Homo sapiens: one gene and its partners. The protein of the gene in region 3 purifies or fractionates together with the protein of the main gene of each other region. This does not show direct contact. Each region holds a gene or a part of one and is shown on either strand. Other genes may lie near its edges.

Region 1 (7,394 bases), on a different chromosome or scaffold from region 3:
AGACATTAATTCTAAGTATAAATTTCGCTTCCAAGCATCTATACAAACACTTAAATTCTGAGTCTTGGTTTCCTAATTTGTCCCATCAACTTACACAGGTTTGAATGCAAGCTTTATCACTAATTAGCTGCCTGACACTGAGCAAATTACTTAACCATTCTCTGTCTCCATTTCTTCATCTGAAAAAAAAGGGGGCGTGGGAGGGCCTAAAGTAACTTCTTCATGAATATGTTGCAAAGATTTTGAGATATTGTATGTGAAGTGATTACCCCTGTGCCTCACTAGAATGAATATTTATAAATGGTGTCTGTTACAAACATGTATAAATTTTTTTTGAATAATAACAAGGACAAAAATAATACACTGGAAAGCATATTTGAAAAATAACTTTACCAAATCAAAATATTATAATTGTTATTAATCTTTGTACCTGCAGCTTCTGAAATTCTTCTATTTCTTGTCTTGATTCTTCAGATCTCCTCTTTCTGTCTTCTTCTTGCTGAAGCTGGTGAGCCAATTGTAGATCACCAGAACACTGGACTCTATCCATGCCTGTTAGGTATTGTTAATGTTCAGAATAAAATAACTGTTGCAATCAAAGATTATTTATTATTTAATATATGTTTTTAAAATAGAGTAAATGCTGTTATTTGCCATTTATTCATGACTGTGATGATATGGAACTGAGTACAAATTTAGCAAAACTTAGAACTGCTTTGGTAAGGAATAACCTCCATCTAAATGACAACTAACAGTCACTGTTTTTTGTTTTTTGAGACGGAGTTTCGCTCTTATTGCCCAGGCTGGAGTACAATGGTGCGATCTCAGCTCACTGCAACCTCTGCCTGCCAGGTTCAAGTGATTCTCCTGCTGCAGCCTCCTGAGTAGCTGGGATTACAGGTGCCTGCCACCATGCCCAGCTAATTTTTGTATTTTTAGTAGAGATGGAGTTTCGCCATGTTGGTCAGGCTGGTCTCAAACTCCTAACCTCAGGTGATCCACCAGCCTCGGCCTCCCAAAGTGCTGAGATTACAGGCGTGAGCTACCATGCCCAGCCTCACTAAGTGTTTAAAGCTGTGACAAGCACTTTTCATTAATTATATCATTTGATCTTTGTAACAATCTTATGAAGTAGTTATTATTATTTACTGAGGAAACCAGAATTTTAAAACGTTAAGTAACATCCTGCATTGATACTCCTTAACATAACTAAGGCAGATTGATTTTTCAAAGAAATACTAGGGGAGAAAAAAAAAAAAATAAAGAGCATAAAAATACACATTTACAAAGTGCAGGTGTTAGATAATAATTTAATTACAGTTTGGCCCCCAAAAATGGTAAAACTTTGCAACATCTCATCCTGCATCTTCTCTACTCGGTGTCCCCCAGATCCATTTGTCAGTGGCTTCTGGCCACTATCTTGTCTCCTTAACCCCATGACCTGATGGTTTAATTATATCACTGACTATTCTTCCTTTCCTTTCAAAGTTCTCAGCTGCTGCTACATCTTCCTATTTGGTCACCCTTCCATTCTTGGGGATATACAAGTCACACTCAATGTTTAGTGTCCCCTGAGGTTATCTACAGTGATTTACTTAGACCATATCTTTTTCTTATTACCCACTATAGGTTTACACTGTAATATACGTGCTCATACAAAGCCTATCATAAATAAGAGTAAGAATTAGCAGACATTCAGAAACCACCAGAGCAGGGAACTTTTCCATCTTTGCCCCAATAATCTCATATTTGGCTTAGGGTGAGTGAGCAGTAACATTGTCCATGAACACCGATACTGGTACTAGGATCATTGATACTGGACACTAAAGACCTCTGCCTTAACAGAAGCTATCTACGTACCTTAAAAAACTGAAATAGGGTAAAACACAATTGGTTTCTCTTGGGATCTACTTTTTATTTTCGTTCAGTGGGCTTCTAACATTCATATAGGATTTTTCCACTTCTAAGCCACCATAATGATTATTTAAACAATGCCACTATTAAAAAACATAGGGGAGAAAGGAAAACTTTTATAGAATCACAATAAAACCAGTAAGTCATTTAGAAGCTATTCAAGCAGCTCAAGATGCACTGAAAGATGTTTTGGTTATATAGTTCACATTCATTTGTAAAATTTTATGTGCCATATGGCAGTTTTCTAGTTCAACAATTTTCGCTGACCAAATACAATATTCAGATACTTCTAGCTGCTAAAGAAATGGCCTCAACTTGTAAATAAAACACTTTTAAAGGAAAAGATGTATTTTAAAATATTTTTTCCATATCACAAATCTAAAAATTAGATATGTGTCCTAGAAAGTAGAAATTAAATGATATTTTTATCTTCAAACATATAAACATACCTTGCTGAAAGCTGTTTTCTTCCAAATGCAAGTCAACATGTTCCTGAAGAATATGGTAATTTGTACATATGAGCCCACACATAGGACAATCATAGAGTGGTTGATCACAGTCTGTATCAGAGATATAATTAAGTTGTTTTTATTTTTTTATTTTAATTTTTTTCTTTGCTTTTTTTTTTTTTGAGACAGGGTCTCACTCTGTTGCCCAGGCTGGCGTGCAGTGGCACCATCACGGCTCACTGCAGCAATCCTCCCATCTCAGCCTCCCAAGTAGATGGGGCTAAAGGCATGCGCCACCACGCCCAGCTAATTTTTTTTTTTTTAGAGATGAGATCTCACTATGTCGTCCAGGCTGGTCTCAAACTCCTGGACTCAAGTGATCCTTCTGCCTCAGCATCCCAAAGTGCTGGGATTACAGGCATGAGCCACCATGCCCAGCCAAGTTGGTTTTATTTTTATAACTTTTAGATTTTTTCACCCCATGTCAAAGACTGTCTACCACCTATTAACCTTATATAAGTAAAAGCTCTTTGTAGTGGATTTAAAAGCTATTTTTCTACTTCTAGGGTCGAGATAGAAGGCTGAGCATAGCACAAACCTCTCATACCACTCCAAAAAAAAAGGAAATATTAATAATAAATATTCAGATCTGTAGTCAAAACAAGAGAAGCAGAAAGGAAAACCAAAGTGGTAAGTAGGGCCCAGTCTGGATATGGGTTTTTAGGACTAAATTCTCAGCACCCAACAGAGTGGTAAGGTGCTGAACTTAAACATCCAGCATAAAGCTGGGAATTGGGGTAATACTGTCTACACAGGAGCAGGAGATTAAAGAGCTGCATCCATCACATAGCACTGCAGGCAGACAGGTCTAGCTTGCCAAAAACAGAAATTGTTCCTCTATAAGACCAAGACCTAGCAGATAAGGGACATAGAAGAGGGACCCAGAATTGTGCATATACACAGAGTGAAAGCATAGAGCAATCTGTATATGTAAGGCCTGGTCTGAAAGCAGAGACTGTGAACAGCCAGTGTGAAGGAACCATGAAACTGCTTCACAGGGAAGGGATCATATAAAACTCCCATAACAGATGAACACTAAAATTTGAATTGCTAAACTCACTGGGGGCTGCAATGCCAAGAAAAACAGCTAAGAAATCTACAAACTGAAAAAGTTACCTGTGAAGAAATGGAGCTACAGTAATCCATAATAAACTGTAAAATAAGTATGTTCAAAATGCTCACTGAAATAAAGGAGGGAACTGAATCTTTGAAACCAGGACAGAAAGTTACTAAGAAAAAATAGAAAGATGAAGAAAATGAAAATATTAAGATGTAATCATTGGAATAAAAAATTCAATGGCAAAGCTCAAGAGAAAATGAAGTATTAAGTACTCAGAAAATATTTCCAAAAGCAGCAGTAAGAAATAATGGTATACAGCTTCCATAAGTAATGCTGGCGGATGTAAGAGAAGTCTTTCAGCCAGTTCTCTACCATAAAATGCCTTAGAGCCAGAGCCAATGCCAAGGAGGCCTTTGCTTATCGCTTTGATCATCACACTACTGCAAGCCAATCCCTCCACCCCTTCTAGTTTTAAGTGATAACCAACCTTCCTCAACATTAGACCACACTACACCTCATATCCCAGTATACATTTTTTACCACCAGAATCTAAACTAAGCCTCAGAGGTTAGCCATCATCATCCAATGGAGTCATCTAGGGCTGATGTAACCACCAACACTGTTGTGTCAATGAATCCAATCTAATTGTTCAGTGGCAGTGTCTTAACAATCTTTAAATACCTGAAGGACATCTGCTAATCTGACCCAAGCTATTACCCCTCCTATTCTCCCAATACCTACCACAATGCCCTCAGAAATACCATCGGTCATCAGTCAGCTTCTCTATACACAAAATCTTTCTCTGGATATTCACTTCACCTTCTTGACTTAACTAAAATCTGGTTGGTTCATGACACCCCATTTTCTCTACAGCCCCCTAACACACAGGCAACTTTTCTTTCACAATTCAGGGCCCTAGAAGTAGAAGAGGCATCCCCTTTGCTCCCTTTCACCACTGTCAAACCTGTTTTAAGCCCCATTTTTGTAATAACTCATGTCACCATAATATGGCATCATCTACCTTTCTTAGTGCCTAATATTTTCTGAAGTCTTAGACACTCCTTTCATTTACTAAAAATGTTAACACCTGGATCAAAACCTTCTTTTCCTAGCCCCTATACTATGATCATTCTTAGCAACTTCAATATCCATAGAAATAGTTCTATGCCTTCATTTCCAACAATCTTTTCCTTTACCCTAATTTACCAACCGAATGACAAAAATTATACCCTTAATTTATCACTAAGTGAATCTCTGAAATCTCAATTTCAAATATCACTCCCAAACACCTATCCTTCTACCTCACTTCTTTTAATTCTACCACTCTAAAAAGTGTTTGACCTAACTAAAACCTCCTATATAGAATATACAAACCCTATTTTTCTGTCATTCATTACCCCCCTCATGTTTTTCTTTACTTTCCAGCCCAGATTCCACATATCTTCTCTATATGATAATCATTCCCTTAAAAACACCTGCAAATCCACCTGTTCCATTTACTATAACTGAACATTGGTTAAATCTAGCTATTTACCTATTTCACTTCTGTACTTCTAATGACAACAGGTCTTTTTTAACCGCAACTAAACATTCAGACTCCTAAGACTACCAAAATTCACCAGTTTACTGGTCCTGAGAAACTTACAGGAAATGTTGTGTCAGCAAAGGATTGTCAGGCATTTTTCAATACACTTGTTTTTTTTCCTTGCAGCAGTCCATAAATTTTCATTATTAGCAGATAATAAAATGATCTACTTAGAATACTCAAGGGAATTAATGTAGAATTATTAAAATTCGTTAACAGGCCAGACGCAGTGGCTCCCACCTGCAATCCTAATGCTTTGGGAGGCTGAGGAAGGAAGACTGCTTGAGCACAGGAGTTCAAGACCAGCCTGAGTAACATAGCAGGACCTCATTTCTATTAAATATTAAAAAAAAAAAATTAGCTGGGCGTGGTGGTGCAGGCCTGTAGTCCCAGCCCCTTGGGAGGCTGAGGCAGGAGAACCACTTGAGCCCAGGAGATCAAGGCTGCAGTGAGCCATGATCATGCCACTGAACTCCAGCCTGGGTGACATAGTAAGACCTTGTCTCAAAAAATATAAAATAAAATAATATTAGTAATAGTTGAATAAGACTAGATACCTCAACTATCTATAAAAATTGATAGTGTTTCTATAAAACTGCAAAAGTTTCTTAGATGAGAGGGAAAAAAATCTAATTTACAAAAGCAACAGAAAATATAAACTATACAGAAATAAAGCTAACACAAATGTGCAATGAAAAAACAACACAAGCCTGGGCGCGGTGGCTTACGCCTGTAATCCCAGCATTTTGGGGGGCTGAGGTAGGTGGATCATCTGAGGTTAGGAGTTCCAGACCAGCCTGGCCAACATGGCGAAACCCTGTCTCTACTAAAAGTACAAAAATTAACTGGGCCTGGTGGTGGGCAGTGGTAATCCCAGCTACTTGGGAGGCTGAGACAGGAGAATTGCTTGAACCTGGGAGGCAGAGGTTGCAGTGAGCAGAGATCGTGCCATTACACTCCAGCCTGGGTGACAGGGCAAAAGTCCATCAAAAAAAAAAAAAACACACACACACAAAATTGTATTAAAGGATACAAAAGATGACCTGAATTAATGGGGAGATGTACTTTGATCTAATTTAAAACAAAATGACAACAGAGTTTTTATGAAACTTGATAATATGGCTTTAAAACTCAAAGAAAAGAAAGAATGAGAAGGTCTAAGTTGATGATGAAAATGAAGAACGAGGGAAAAACTGTCCTATCTGATGTTGATGACATTTTACAAAATAGCTATTAAAGTGGTGGTGTAATAAGGGAACAAAAGTCACATAGATAAATACAGCAGAAGTAAGAGACCAGAAACTGGCCCACACAGATATGAAAATGTAATAAAAAACAGAAACCATATTATAAATCAGAGATATATCTGGTTTCTGTACAGGGAAAAACTAAAAATTAGATCCCAAGTTCACAAAATATACACATGTACACAAGTACAGACACACACACACACACACACACACACAATCCAGAAAAAATTTTAAAAAGTGAAAATATAAAACATTAAAGTTTTTAGAATATATGAGAATAGCTTTTTGAATTCAGAGTAAAGAATACTTTTTTAGACAATACATAGAAAACAAAAATAAAATTCAAATACTGCACAAAATTCAAGGATAAGCAACATCTTATGGAATACAGCTGAAGGATTAGTATTGAAAATATATTTTAAAAGCAACTGAAAAAAACTCAAAAAATATTTGACAATATACAGTTGAAAAATGCATGTAACTCAAGTGTACAAAAAATGTAATATGCAGTTCATAATAGAGGAAATTAAAATAACTATACAAAAAAAGATTGATTTCATAATCAGAGAAATGCATTAAAAAAGAATGTAGACACTGACTTCATACCTTTTACATAGAGTAATTCAAATGTATCACAGATCTAAATGTAAAATACAAAACTATCAAACTTCTAGAAGTTGGCAAAGAGTTTTTAGACACACCAAAAGCATGATCCATGAAAGAAGAAATTGTCAAGTTGCACTTCATTAAAATTAAAAACTTCTACTTCATGAAAGACACTGTTAAAAGAATAAAAAGACAAGCCACAGACTAAGAGAAAATATCTGCAAAATACACATCCAAAAAAGAACTTGTATCCAAAATACAGAAAAATTTTTCTTTTTTTTTTTTTTTTTTTTGGAGACAGGGTCTTATTCAGTCACCCAGAGTGGAGTGCGGAGTGCAGTAGTGTGATCATGGCTCACTGCAGCGTCCACTTCCCAGGCTCAGGTGATCCTCCTATTTCAGCCTCCCAAATAGCTGGGGCTACAGACGCAAGCCACTAGGCCTGGCTAGTTTTTTGGTTTTTTTTTTTT
Region 2 (7,256 bases), on a different chromosome or scaffold from region 3:
TAATATTTATTGAAAGTTTCCTGCATTCCAGACACCATATTAGGCGTTAGGACATAGCAATTAACAAAATATAATCACTGTCCTTTGGAGTTTAGAGTCCAAGGAGAGGCAGTGACAAAAATCAAATAAATGATCGCACATCCCATTATTTAACTGTAACTAGTAGATGCCTTTCAAGTAGAATAGAGTGCTATGACAGCATGTCAGTAAGGGTCTCTGACCTAGTGTGGGGGAACAGGTGGTGAGGGAAGGATTCCTTGAAGATGAGACATTTCAGCAGCCTCTCTCCTCTAGCCGCCCCAGATGCCAAAAGGAAAGATGGCCAAGGGGAAGAAGTGGCCCTGGCCCCTGTTGTCATGGAGCAGCAGTAGGCCAAAAAGGTGGTAAATCCCATTTGAGAAAAGCCCTAATAATTTTGGCATTGGATATCTAGCCTAAGGGCCTCACCCACTTTGTCAAATAGTCCCGCTATAAATGGCTGCTGCGGCAGAGCCGCTGTACTCTATAAGTGGCTGATGTGCCACCTGGGATTGACCAGTTCACCCAGGCCTCAGACTACCAAACTTAAGCTACTCAATTGCTTAAGCTGGCCCACAGTACAGACAAGAGACAGAGCAAGGGATGAGATCGAAACCGTTGGCCCAGGCTGAGAAGAAAGCTTCCAGCAAAGGGGATGTCGCTACTAAGAGACCACCTACACTTCGAGCAGGGGTTGACACCGTCACCAACTTGGTAGAGAGCATGAAGGGTCAGCTGGTGGTGGATCCCATTGAGCTGGTTGTCTTCCTGCCTGTGCTGTGTCCTAAGATGGGGATTCTCTACTGCACCGTCAAGACTGTGGTGTCAAATTCCACAGGAAGACCTGCACCACTGTCACCTTCACAAAGGTTAACTTTCTGGTAGACAAAGGAGCTCTGGCTAAGCTGGTGGGACAAATTACAACGACATATGAGATCTGCTGTCACTGGGGAGGCAATGCCCTGGGTCCAAAATCTGTAGCTTGCATTACCAACCTAGAAAAGGCAAAGGCTAAAGAATTTGCCACTAAACTGGGTTAAGTACACACTGTTGTGTTTTCTGTACATAAAAATAAAAATTCTCTTTCCAAGAAAAGTCTTTCCTTTTGGCTGGAACTGCCATCTTGGAGTAATTTGCCAAAATGACGAACACAAAGGAAAAGAGGACGAGGCATCTGATGTATGTTCTCCTGGCCTTATAGAAAACATGGAGTTCGAGCTGGGCACGGTGGCTCACGCCTGTAACCCTAACACTTTGGGAGGCTAAGGCGGGTGGCTCACCTGAAGTCAGGAGTTCAAGACCATCCTGGCCAACACAGTGAAACTACTAAAAATACAAAAAATTAGCTGGGCATGGTGACAGGCACCTGTAATCCCAGCTACTAGGGAGGCTGAGGCAGGAGAATCGCTTGAACCCGGGAGGCGGAGGTTGCAGTGAGCTGAGATCACACCATTGCACTCCAGGCTGGGCAACAAGAGCAAAGCTCCATCTCAAAACAAACAAACAAAACAAAACAAAAATATGGAGTTTCTCTGGCCACAGACACCAGAATCTACAATGAAGGTGATATTGAGGACTTCGTGAGAATGCATACTGTTCAAAAGGGAATGACCCACAAATGTTACATGGCAGAACTGGAAAAGTCTATGTTACCCAGCATGCTGTTGGCACTGCTGCGAACAAGGGCTAGATTCTTGCCCAAAGAATTAATGTTTCTATTGAGCATATTAAGCACTCTAAGAACCAAGATCTTTCCTGAAATGTGTGAAGGAAAATGATCAAAAAAGAAGCAAGTCAAAGAGAAAGGGTTCACCTGAAGTGCCAGCCTGTTCCATTGAGGGAAGTACACTTTGTGAGAACCAATGGAAAAGAGCCTGAGCCGCTGGAACCTATTCCCTATGGATTCATGGTATGATAGGGTAAAAATAGATAAATACAAGACCTCTGGATTGCTTAAAAAAAAAAAAAAAAAAGGGAGAGAGAGAGAATGAATTCAGCAGAGCCTTGAAGGATAAGAAGTTAGGCGTAGGAGAACCATTTTTCAATGTCTACTTCATTGTCTAGAAGTAGACAAACCTTGGGGCTGGTCACCAGGACTTCTAGCACTGGAAACAGGTAAAGCTGTCAGCCAGCATTCACACAACCCTGGCTCCACTCCCACTATCCTTGATCTGGAAACAGGTCTTAGGACCCTGGGAACTAAAGAAAAATGAGCAGGGAACTTCCACCCATGCTCTTAGAAAAGTTCTCCAGAAAACCATTTCAGGATCTACTTTTGTTATCTGAGATATTTTCCTGGACAGCTCTTTATGTCTCCCGTGGCACCTCCTTTATGAAACTTTTTCTTATCCTCCCTTGCGTTTGTGCCTCCCGTGTGTGTAGAACACATTCTTACCACTTACCTCTCTCAGAATCAGTTCATTCGGGTAGGAACAGGGCTGACTTCAAATCTAATCCCCAAACCTTACCGTGTTGCTGTAAGTGTGCACTGTGAGGCTGGAAAGTCACAAGGGCTGTAGAATGCAGTGGCTGTGGCACAGGATGGGGAGGGCTAGGTTGGCTGGGGAACGATCGGGCAGGGCTTGAATGCCAAGTTAAGGGAATCTGGTCAGTAGTTCCCAAATGAATTTCTGAATCTCTAGGGAAAAACAGTAAAATACACACTTCCCCAGCCTCACACAAGACCCGAAGGGCAGCCAGCGCCCGAGGCGATTCCGAGAATCAGACAAGTTTGGGAACCTGCTAAGCGCAAGCAAAACAAAAGGTTTCCACGCAAATGAGTGAGATGTATCAACTACGTTTTAAAATGCACTCCAGTCCGAGAGCAGACAGGAGGCCACTGCAATAATCCAGACGAGGGGCAGTGAGGCCTGAGAAATGGGAGATAATCGCCTTCATCTCGATTCTTGGCGCCCACCACGCTGTCCCGCTCGGTGGGCCTCCCTTAAGGCACGCAGCTGATCGGAACGCGCTTTCTTACCCGCCTCATGCGACCGTTTGACAGCAGGTCGGCGATCCCCTTGGCCGCGTCGTTTTTTTCGGCCACACAGAGGACTTTCCGCACGCCTCGGAGGGCCATCTCCATGGCGGCGCGGGAAAAGGCACGGTCTTCGGGCCGTCGCAGCCACCGGAGCGCGTAGCGGGCGACAGGAAAGATCATCCTCAGACCTCGCGCCCGGAGCCGCTCCCCGGCTGCCGGCGCATCCTGGGGAAGCCAGAGATGAGGCTCAAATGGCGCCCACCGAAAGGGAACCAGAGCCTCGCTTCGGTCACGTCCCCACCAGCCTGCTGGCCTTTGGAGCTTCAGTCACTGAGCCTTTCCCGTGCCGCAGCCGCCGCCTCAGCACCGAATCCAGTATCTTGGCGTGGAACTTCCGCCCGCCTTCTCCAGCTACTTCCGCCAGGCGCGCGCCCCACAGCGACCTGGAACTACAACTCCCAGACTGTCCCGCGCCCCTCGTCCAAGCACGTTCCCCTCTGCCACCTTCCCGCCGCCCCCGTCTCACTCCGCCCCTCTTTCCCCTCCTTCCCGGCAGTGGTTGGTTAATCGGACTCCTTCTTGCGGGGAGCCGCCAGACACTCCCATCCAAGGCCTCTTTCTCATGACTTTTTAATCTCCTGCTCGGAAGTCTACGAGGACGCTTCCGGGTCACGCGGCGCGGACACCAGGAGTCATGTGATGTCAAGATGGCGGCGCCGCGGTAGCAGGATCCGGGTTGTGGCGTCCTAGGAGCCGCGACGGTTTCTGCCCTCGGGCAGTGAGGGGCAGCAGCGCTTGGCTGACCCCTGCGGCGTCCCGTAGCCTCGCGTTAAGCCTTGTTCAGAGCGGGGGCTTTTGCTGTCGCAGTGGGTTCCGGAGAGTGCAGGTGATTTCGCAGCAGGTTTCTTGTGCTGGCCGCGCTCGCCGGACGAAGAAGAGAAGGGCAGTTGGGCCTGCGGCCTTGGCGTTCATGAGGCCTCAGAGAGCTCCGGAGGAGCTACAACTGTGAGGGGGCTGCTAGAGTTCTTCTCCTCGGGTGTGTGAGAAGCAGCCTAGGACCCCGGGTTCGGGGAGTCGCAAAGAAGGCCGTAAGGGCTTCACTTCCTTCTCCGGAGGCCTGCCTTCTGCGCGTCGATTAACACCGCATTCTTTCCCACTTCCTCTCAATGTTTTCTTCATATATCTGGAAATATGATCAGCGCCCCTGACGTAGTGGCCTTCACCAAAGAGGAAGAGTATGAAGAAGAGCCTTACAATGAGCCGGCCCTGCCTGAGGAGTACTCGGTGCCGCTCTTCCCCTTCGCCAGTCAGGGTGCTAACCCCTGGTCAAAACTGTCCGGGGCCAAGTTTTCGAGGGACTTCATTCTTATTTCCGAGTTCTCTGAGCAGGTGGGACCCCAACCCTTACTGACCATCCCCAATGACACCAAAGTTTTTGGCACTTTTGATCTCAATTACTTCTCCCTGCGTATCATGTCTGTGGATTACCAGGCTTCCTTCGTGGGCCATCCTCCTGGATCTGCCTACCCCAAGCTGAACTTCGTGGAGGACTCCAAGGTGGTGCTGGGAGATTCTAAGGAGGGCGCCTTTGCATACGTGCACCACCTTACCCTATACGACCTGGAGGCCCGTGGCTTCGTGAGGCCGTTTTGCATGGCTTATATCTCTGCAGACCAGCATAAAATCATGCAGCAGTTCCAGGAGCTTTCAGCCGAATTTTCCAGAGCTTCTGAGTGCTTGAAGACTGGCAACAGGAAGGCATTTGCTGGGGAACTTGAAAAAAAGCTGAAAGACTTGGATTACACCAGGACAGTGCTACACACAGAAACGGAGATCCAGAAGAAAGCCAACGACAAAGGCTTTTACTCATCTCAGGCAATTGAGAAAGCCAATGAACTGGCCAGTGTGGAGAAGTCCATCATTGAACATCAAGACCTGCTGAAGCAGATCCGCTCATACCCTCATCGGAAGTTGAAGGGGCATGATTTGTGTCCTGGTGAGATGGAGCACATCCAGGATCAGGCCAGCCAGGCATCCACTACCTCTAACCCTGATGAGTCTGCCGACACAGACCTTTACACCTGCAGACCAGCCTACACCCCAAAACTTATCAAAGCAAAGTCCACCAAGTGTTTTGACAAGAAGTTGAAGACCTTGGAGGAGCTCTGTGACACTGAATATTTCACCCAGACCCTGGCTCAGCTCAGCCACATTGAACACATGTTCAGAGGAGACCTGTGTTACCTCCTGACCAGTCAGATTGATAGAGCACTTCTAAAACAACAGCATATAACAAACTTTCTCTTTGAAGACTTTGTGGAGGTCGATGACAGGATGGTGGAGAAACAAGAAAGCATACCCTCTAAGCCCAGTCAAGACAGGCCGCCTTCCAGTTCTCTAGAAGAATGCCCAATTCCTAAAGTGTTAATTAGTGTTGGTTCTTACAAGTCCAGTGTGGAGTCTGTGTTGATCAAGATGGAGCAGGAACTGGGAGATGAGGAGTACAAGGAAGTGGAAGTGACTGAGTTGAGCAGTTTCGACCCCCAGGAAAACTTGGACTACCTGGATATGGATATGAAAGGGAGTATCAGCAGTGGTGAAAGTATTGAAGTTTTGGGCACGGAGAAATCCACCTCCGTGCTTTCTAAATCTGACAGCCAGGCAAGCCTCACAGTACCATTGAGCCCCCAGGTGGTCCGGAGCAAAGCAGTCAGCCACAGGACCATCAGCGAGGACAGTATTGAAGTCCTCAGTACCTGCCCCTCTGAGGCCCTCATCCCTGATGACTTTAAGGCCAGCTACCCAAGTGCCATTAATGAAGAAGAATCATATCCAGATGGCAATGAAGGAGCCATCCGCTTCCAGGCAAGCATCAGTCCTCCAGAACTGGGTGAGACAGAGGAAGGCAGCATAGAAAACACCCCATCACAAATAGACTCCTCCTGCTGTATTGGGAAGGAGAGCGATGGTCAGTTGGTGCTGCCCTCCACTCCAGCCCACACACACTCTGACGAGGATGGGGTGGTGAGCAGCCCCCCACAGCGCCACAGGCAGAAGGACCAGGGGTTCCGTGTAGACTTTTCAGTGGAAAATGCCAACCCTTCTTCCCGAGACAACAGTTGTGAAGGGTTTCCCGCTTATGAGCTGGACCCGAGCCACCTGCTGGCTAGCCGGGACATCAGTAAGACCAGCCTGGACAACTACTCAGACACCACCAGCTACGTGAGCAGTGTAGCGTCCACCAGCTCAGACAGGATCCCCTCTGCTTATCCTGCTGGCCTGTCTTCCGATAGGCATAAAAAGAGGGCTGGCCAGAACGCCTTAAAATTCATCCGCCAGTACCCCTTTGCCCACCCAGCCATCTACTCCCTGCTCAGTGGGAGGACACTTGTGGTCCTGGGGGAAGATGAGGCCATAGTCAGGAAACTCGTGACTGCACTGGCTATCTTTGTCCCCAGCTATGGCTGCTACGCTAAGCCCGTGAAACATTGGGCCTCCTCCCCTTTGCACATTATGGATTTTCAGAAGTGGAAGCTTATTGGCTTGCAGAGGTAACTGGTTCCAGGTGGTGGGGAAGGGCCTTGGCCAGATAGGGATGAGGTATATTGGTGTGGTGGAGCCAGAATCAGGAAGCCTGGCTTCTAGACAGGGCCCAGTTCCTACCACTGTGTTACTTTTGGCAAGTCATCCCCCTCTCTGGTTTCTATTTCCTTGTCTGTCATGTGAGGGGGTTGCAGTTCCTAGGTGGTTGCCAATCCCCATCTGTCCCCGAGCTGTGTCAGCATTATTAGGGAAAGTTTTTATTTTTATTTTTATTTTTTTGCAACGAAGTCTCGCTCTTGTACCCCAGGCTGGAGTGCAATGGCGCGATCTTGGCTCACTGCAATCTCCGCCTCCCGGGTTCAAGCAATTCTCTTGCCTCACTGTCCTGAGTAGCTGGGATTACAGGCGCCTGCCACCACACCCGGCTAACTTTTCTATTTTTAGTAGAGACAGGGTTTCACCATGTTGGCCAGGCTGGTCTGGAACTCCTGACCTTAGGTGGTCTGCCCACCTCAGCCTCCCAAAGTGCTGGGATTACAGGTGTGAGCCACCGTGCCTGGCCGGAAAGTTTTTAAAATCATGGATTCCTGAGTCACAAGCCCTCGAGGTTCTGATTCGGTTGGTGTGAGGTAAGACATGGAATTTATCTGTCGCCATTGCCAGCCCGACTGCAGGGAGCATCTCTCTATAAAAGCAAAAGGCCCATCAGAAGGGA
Region 3 (7,994 bases):
AAAAAAAAAAAAAAAAAAAATCCAGCGAAAGGGGTTTCCCCTTATAAAGCCATCAGATCTCGTGAGACTTATTCACTACCACGAGAACAGTATGGGGGAAACTGTCCCCATGATTCAGTTATCTCTCATCGGGTCCCTCCCACAACACATGGGAATTATGGGAGCTACAATTCAAGATGAGATTTGAGTGGGGCACAGCCAAACCGTATCACCATCCCACTGAGAGCCACCTCCATCACTCAATAAAATGCCCACATTCACCATCTTTCAAGCCCATGTAACCTGATTCCTCCTCGATGCTAGACAAGAATTCAGGATGCACTGGGTGTGGGAACCCAAAAAGGCTGTCACACTGACTCTACTGAGCTATTTAACACTTAAGCCATTCCCAGACGGCAGGGCTAAAAGAGCACTGTAACGCCCCTAGACACTGCCATGGGGCTGGAGGCCCAAATCACTCACCCCAACTCCTGCACCTGCTCACCTGCATGCTCCCTCTCCCGTAAGGGGTTTGAGTACACGGCAGCCGAGCAAACGAGCCACACCCTGGTTCCAAGTCCCACAAAGGGGTCCAGGGAATTCTCCTGTCTTATAACCATAATGCCAAATTTTGACAAGGACTATACAAAAAAGGAAAATTACAGACCAATCTCACTCATGAACATAGATTAAAAAAAAAAAAATCCTAAACAAAAACAACAGCAAATCAAATCCAGGAATATATATAAAAGACAATATATCATAACCAAGCTTCCAAGAATGTGAGCTTGGTTCAAACACTGAAAAATACATACTCATTTCAATCATCTCAATTAAGGCAAAAAATGCATTTGATCAAATTCCGTAACAATTCAATTAAAATGCTTATCAAACTAGGAATAGAAGGAAAATTCCTTAATCTAATAAACAGAAATTCAAGTTGGGAAGGACTTCGGGGAATACTCCTTAAAGGAAGCTGAATGCGGGTCCACTTCTCTGCCACATAGAACGTGGATTTACTTGATAGCTGAAGCTCCATCACTTACCTGGCCTATGAGATAACCATAAATATGGAACTAGATATTGAATGTAGAACTACAGAAAGACAGAAAGAACCTGGGGCCCTGAGTCTTAGTGCACTACCACATAAGTACTAAGTTGCACAGCTGTGGACTTCTTTCACATGTGAGAATAAGCGTTTGTGCATTAAAGATACTTTTGTTTATGCAGCTAAACCCCATCTTGACTTAAACACTATTTCTATTCAAAATGGTACTGAAGGCTCTATCCTAGGCAAAAGGTAAGAAAGATAAATAAAATATGTAAGAATTCTTAAGAAACAAAACTATAATTATTCAAATATGAATAGAAAATTCCAAAAAAAACTGATAGAAAATTCTTAAAATGGCATTTCTATATACCAAAACAATCAGTTAAAATCTTTAATTTAAAAAATGATACCATTCATAATAGCAACAAAAACAAGGTATCTAGGAATAAATCTAAGCTAAAAGTCAAAACTTTTATGTAGAAAAGTATGAGACCTTTTGGAAAGATTTTAAGAGGACCAAAATGGCTCAAGGATAGTAAGAGTTGACATTCAGGTGTTACTTTTCCTGAAATACATCCAAGGATACAGTGCAATTTTGATCAAAATTCCAACACAGTTTTTCCTGGAAATTCATAAGCTACATTCTATACAGAAGAGCAAAGAGACAAAAATAACCAAGACATTCCCGAGAACACAGCCCCAGACATCAAAAGTTATGATAAGCTACACTATTAAAGAAAATAGGTAGTGGTTCAGGGATAGAAAAATAGATCCATAGAATAGAATTGACTCCACACATATCTGTAAACTTAAGGTGACAAGTGAAGGTGGCAAAAAGGTGATACAGTCAAATCACATTAGGACAACTGAAATTAAAACAAAACAGAGATTGGAGACTTATCTGACAACATACATGAAGAGTGAATTCTAGATGACGGACTATTAAATATGAAAGGCAAAACTCTAAACATTTTAGGAAAAATAGAATACCTTTAAGAGTACGATGTATCAAAGAATTCATAAATGAGATTTTAATGGACTTTTCTCCTACATTAAACTTAAGGGGGAAAATGTTTAACTATATTAAAAGAGGTCTTCCTAATAAAAAAAAAAAAAGGATGGAATGAAGGAAGGAAACGGAAAGATAGGCCAAAAACAGACAACACTTGTACCATTACAATATCTCACTAATAAAAAGCTCTTAAAAGTCAGTAAGAAAAAGAAAAATCAAGGAAAAAAAGATAAACATAAATAACCAATAAAAATCTGAAAAAATGTTCAAACTTTTCAGTAATCAGGGAGTGCAAATTAGGGTCACGACAAAAAAACACTTCATATCCATCAAATTGGGGGAAAAAACTCCAAGAGTTGCCAAGAATATACAATAACTGTAAACTGTCTTATACTCCAGGTAAGAGAGTAAACTGGTACCACCATTTGGGGAAATCATTTTTTTACTAGTGGCAGAGATCCAAGTTACCCCAAGTTACCGGTGGCCTATCCTCACGGGTCAGTAGCAACTTCAGTCCTTGCCTCCTCAGACGAAAAAATTTGACTGAGGGGCATAAAGCAGAAACAGAGACCCAGGCAAGTTCCAGAGCAGGAATGGAAGTTTACTTTAAAAGGCCTTAAAACAGGAAGAAAGGAAGGTGTGCTTGTTAGAGACCCAAGCGGGAATGTGAAGGTTAAAGAGAGTAGGTCAAGTGTCCGATTTAACCGTTGATCCTTTTTTTTTCGTTTGTTTGTTTTTTTTTTTTTTGAGAGGGAGTCTCGCTCTGTGGCCCAGGTTGGAGTGAAGTGGCGCGATCTCGGCTCACTGCAAGCTCCGCCTCTCGGGTTCACGCCATTCTCCTGCCTCAGCCTCCCGAGTAGCTGGGACTACAGGCCCCCGCCATCGCGCCTGGATACTTTTTTGTATATTTAGTAGAGACAGGGTTTCACCATGTTGACCAGGGTGGTCTTGAACTTCTGATCTGAGGTGATCCACCCGCTTCAGCCTCCCAAAGTGCTGGGATTACAGGCGTGAGCCACCGCGCCCGGCCCTGATCCTAGGACTTTTACAAGCTTGTCTATTTCCCATGATTCTTTCCTTAGGATAGGCTGCCGGCAGGCACAGAGCCCTCCTTAGCCTTGGGAAGTGTTTTTAGGGAGTTACATGCACGCCCATCTGAGGCTTCCTTCCTTTTTCCGGTGGAGTGTACCTGGAAGATCATACTTTACCATTTTTGTCTCTTAATATGCATGCCCAGGAAGCTGTTTCTCCCTCGGGTCTACATTCAATTAACATTTTGATAACAGGTGTGGACCATCAGGAAATGGCCTCTCCCTGGCGCTGCAGAATTATCATTTTTAGAGAAGCAAATTCGGTAATTGCCAAACCATCCCCCAACATTTCTAGTGGGTTGGGGGAGAGCCCACTACTGTCCCACTCATGCCTACCTGTAACAGAAAAAAAAATATGATCTACGTACATTCGTCAACATAGATGAATCTCAAAAACAAACAAAAGAAGTCAGAAGATACATACGTTTCTGTTTATATAAAGGTCAAAGACTGGCAATATTAAACAACATACCATTTAGCAACGCCTGCATGTGTGATAAAACCACCTAGAAAAGCTTAGGAAGCTTAACACAAATTTCAAGATAGTGTTTACTTATGGCTGTAGCAAGGAGGGCTTCATTGGGGAAGTGCAAACTGGTAAAATTTACTGGTAACTGGTAAAGTTCCATTTCTTCAGCTGAATGACAGGCCCCATGGATTCATTTCATTTCTCTCAAAACTATGCAAATCGGCTAGCTATACTTTTTTCTGTACATCATGTATTTTATAATATTTTAAGTGACTCAAAAATACACGAAAAAGCTGTTTTAAATTATCTTCCTGCTCATCTCCCTGTTTTAAAAGAAAGCCTTTGCTTAAAAGTGGTCTTTCTAACTGCAGGTAAACAACGACATTAACATCTGGTACTCACAGGAGTGCTCTTTAAAAAAAAAAAAAATCACTATTACAGGGTACGCACCAAGGCTCACACCTGTAATTCCAGTACTTTGGGAGGGAGACGGGGGAGGGAGGGATCGCCTGAGCCCAGGAGTTTGAGATAAGCCTGGTCAACATGGCGAGGCCCCATCTGAACAAAAAAAAACAAACAACAAAAAAAAAATCTTTATTAGCTGGGTGTGGTGGTATGTGCTTATAGTCCCAGCTACTTGGCAGGCTGAGGTGAGAGGATCGCTTAAGCCTACGAGTTAAAGGCTGCAGTGAGCTATGTGCATGCTACTGCACTCCAGTCTGGGTGACAGAGAGAGATCTTGCCTCAAAAAAAAATGCTATTAAAGACATTGATGTGTGTACTCTCCCCTATATAATGCACATCAACTTGCTTTGCAAAACAATGCTAAAGTACAAAAGACTTAAAGCTGTAATATAAAATAGACTTTACTGACTTGCACCAATACAACCACAACTTTTTTATACACCACTGACACACATTCTACATCTGTTTAATGAAATCCTTTAAAGTACCGTTAGTGAGTAAAACTAAGACAAACCTATTAAGTGCTAAGGAAACACTAAGGGAGACTATCATTTAATTATCGTACATGAGATTCCAATCTTAAATTGCCACGTGAAGTCTCAAATCGGATCTTTTTTGCTTAAGGGAATTTGAACGATGACAATTCTGTAGCTTTGGGCCAATTCACAGACTCAGTTTCCACAACGTTATAATACCCAATTAAAACTTCTGTCCAATTTCCACCGTACCGTTTGAAGGTATTTTTATGTGCACTCATTCTAGAATACTCCTGGCAAGGCCGCCGGCTTCGGGTCACAAGATGAGCCAGGGACAGATTGGAGACTACCCCCAAATCTCCCAGGAATCGGTTATCTTCCAGACCTCCAGATCGCCCTCCAGAGTCTCGCAGTGTGGAGGGCAACGACAGAAAGACTGCTGAGGGGGTTTAAACTGTTGAGTCAAACATATGGCCAAAAGTCAGAGTCAACTGGGACCTTGCAAATCATTCCGCCTAACCCTTCGTTTTGCAGATGGGGAAAACACGCCTCAGAAGGGAGAACCCTAGCTCGGGGAACCCTAGCTCGGGGTCTAACAACGATTTAAGCTTGTCTCCCCTAGTACTGGCCAGTGGTTCTTCCCCGTTACCCATCCTTAAGTGCTTCTATTGGCTGCCAACACGGAGGGGTTAGCGGGGTGAAAGAACCGGCGCCTCCGCAGTGTGGCCAGGTTGGGCTAAAAAACGTCTTAGAAGTAATCGGATCAATCTCTCTTCTTACAGGTGGAGAAAGTGGAGAAAGTAGAGTGACGCAGCTAAGGGAGTAAATCGACCCTCAGCCAACAAGTGGCAAAAGCCTGAAGAAAGTGATCAAGATCACTGATGACCCCGCTGCCCATCTCCAAGGGGGCGGGTATCACAACCCCGACGCCACACCACGTATCATTCCGCAAAACTCCCGCGCCTCCCACGCAGAACTGGCAAGAGGGAAGGCGAGACAGCAGTGAACAGCTGGTACGCAGCACCCACAGCACCGCGGCAGCAGCTAGTGCCGACTCCCGCCTAGCTCTTTTGACTCTGTTCGCGGGAAGAATGGGGAAACAGTAAGGTTGCGGCGCCTCCCGCGAGACGAGGTACCTGAGGCTGGCCCCGCAGTCCCCCGCCGCACCAGCACCGGAGCTTCACACCCCACTTCCGGGGTCAAGTCACCGCCGGGAATCCTGTGATCGCAGAAAGGTAGTCTCAGGTTCCGCCCCTATCCAAGTCCCGCCTCCACTGCCTCTCGCCCTGTATCTGTCAACTTCCGGGACGCCGCGCGTCACTAAGCAGCCAATCTCCACTTCCGGACTCATCCAGCCCCTTCTCCACCCCTTTCAGAGACAGCGCGATTGCGATTTAGGTTTCCGCGCATTTAATTGGCGAAGCTGGAGCGCTAGTCTTCGCTGATTGGTGCCGAGAAATCTGCCCCATAGACACCCGCGGGGCGCACAGTTTCAGTCGTCCGTGGGTTTCCCGCCAGCCGCAGTCTTGGACCATAATCATGGTGGACATGATGGACTTGCCCAGGTCGCGCATCAACGCCGGCATGCTAGCTCAATTCATCGACAAGCCTGTCTGCTTCGTAGGGAGGCTGGAAAAGGTGTGCGGGTTCGCAATCATGGGCTCCCAAGTCCGTAGCTGGAGGGAGGGACCCCGCCTGGATAACGGGGGATGAAAAAGGACGGAAAGCCTCCGATCACTGCGCCCCCGACTCCTTTATTTTGCACAAGGAACTTTTTGGAAATTCTTTAGCCGTTGTAGCCCCATTTTGGCGCTCTTTTATGGCACGGAAACAAAGTGTTTTCAAATGCTGAGTTCTAAATTCCAGTGCCCGTCGCCTCCGTTCTAGCCGTGCTTACGTAAGGGAAATTATAAACACCACTCCCACATCTACCTTCAGATTTCTTAGTTTACTCAGACGTGACGGACGCAGACAAAACTAATCTGCTGGTTTCCTTCTCTTCTGAAATTACTTATTTTTGCAAACCTCGTTTCCTCGTTGTGATCGCTTCTCTGTAAAACATGCCTTGGTTGTCCGCTTTGGGTCCCGTAGTAACGAGTTATTTAACCCCAGTATTAAAGTGAAGTTCCCTCATTCTACAGGCGAGAAACAGGCCCAAAGTCTTGGAATCAGTGACCTGAAAAGCTGAGGAAAAGAAAACTATTATATAAAGACTTATTTAGTAGCTCATTTCATCCACACATCCTCTTCCTTAAATGAGTGTTGCTCTGACTTCCCAAGTAGGGAAACTGAGTAGGAGTGGTAGGTGGTTGACTAAAATGCTCAGAAACTCGGCAAATGGCAAAGCTGGCATTCAAACGCAATCTGACAGCGCTCTTTACAGCTGCTTCCCAGGAGTAGGACCCAGATATTCTAGCAACCAGTTCTCCTTTTACTTCATCATGCCTGTTTTTTAAAACATACCCTCCGTGGGATATGTACTGTCTAAATCATGAGTGCCAGCAGATTTCACTTTTAGGGTGGGCATCCTTTAATTTGTTATCAGAATAGGGTTGCCATATTTAGCAAATACAGAACCTACTTAACACTACAAAAAAAATCCTTGTTTATCTGAAATTCAGAAATTAACTGTGTGTTCCATGAACAGATTTGATAACATAAGATTATAATTTGATCCAATAAGTTGAATAAACTGAATGAATAAACTGTTCAAGAAACAGTTGATTTGTGCTCAACTAAGGATCAATGTACTCATCTTTAGTCAAACTTTGTTGTTGTTTTAGTGAGATTTTAATTATATGTTTCGTTTTTAGATTCATCCCACCGGAAAAATGTTTATTCTTTCAGATGGAGAAGGAAAAAATGGAACCATCGAGTTGATGGAACCCGTATGTTTAAGTGTTAATAAGTCTCTTATATATTATAGTTAATTCTTCATCTTGATTTGGTTTGTTGCCGATGTTTCTAATTTTTGCAATGGATTTAAAAAGGATGAGCTGGTAAAACGTCCCTGGCTGTAAAATTTAATTCTTGTACTATTCTCTCATTATATTTCCTTTTACATTTTTAACCAATGATTTTTTGGGCGTCATGATTTTTGAACATATCCCATAAATGTTGGATAACAATTCTCATTCCTTATGAAAGACCATAAAATCACATAAGAAAAATTTACGTTGCTTTTTTCTTCCTCAAGAGGTTTTTTGTTTCGTTTTTGTTTTTTTGTTTTGAGACAGGGTCTCACTCTGTTACCCCGGGTGGAATGCAGTGGCACCATCATGGCGCACTGCAGCCTTAGCCTCCCAAGATCAAGTTGCTCCCATGTCAGCCTCCCCAGTAGCTGGGACTACAGGCATGCTTAACCATGCCTGGCTAATTTTTGTTTTGTTTTGTTTTGTTTTGTTTTGTTTTGTTTTTTGTAAAGATGGCATCTCCCTATGTTCCTCAGGCT

What was found. The genes of interacting proteins can lie anywhere in the genome.
Region 1: the proteins of RPA3 (region 3) and ZUP1 purify together in Homo sapiens (affinity purification with western blotting; 3 studies listed by BioGRID, with this or other methods). This does not show direct contact.
Region 2: the proteins of RPA3 (region 3) and TOP3A purify together in Homo sapiens (affinity purification with mass spectrometry; 3 studies listed by BioGRID and IntAct, with this or other methods). This does not show direct contact.

Annotation. Positions count from the first base shown.
Region 1 is NC_000006.12:116,658,373-116,665,766, forward strand, and holds part of ZUP1 (zinc finger-containing ubiquitin peptidase 1), read right to left. Parts: intron 2,475-7,394; coding exon 2,364-2,474; intron 1,998-2,363; exon of another isoform or gene 1,861-1,997; intron 553-1,860; coding exon 431-552; intron 1-430. UniProt on the Homo sapiens protein: Deubiquitinase with endodeubiquitinase activity that specifically interacts with and cleaves 'Lys-63'-linked long polyubiquitin chains. Shows only weak activity against 'Lys-11' and 'Lys-48'-linked chains.
Region 2 is NC_000017.11:18,311,601-18,318,856, forward strand, and holds the start of TOP3A (DNA topoisomerase 3-alpha), read right to left. Parts: upstream 3,395-7,256; 5' UTR 3,179-3,394; coding exon 2,999-3,178; intron 1-2,998. Other genes in the region: guanine nucleotide exchange protein SMCR8, read left to right, coding at 4,190-6,549. UniProt on the Homo sapiens protein: Releases the supercoiling and torsional tension of DNA introduced during the DNA replication and transcription by transiently cleaving and rejoining one strand of the DNA duplex.
Region 3 is NC_000007.14:7,638,507-7,646,500, reverse strand, and holds part of RPA3 (replication protein A 14 kDa subunit), read left to right. Parts: intron 1-5,325; 5' UTR 5,326-6,082; coding exon 6,083-6,181; intron 6,182-7,356; coding exon 7,357-7,431; intron 7,432-7,994. UniProt on the Homo sapiens protein: As part of the heterotrimeric replication protein A complex (RPA/RP-A), binds and stabilizes single-stranded DNA intermediates that form during DNA replication or upon DNA stress.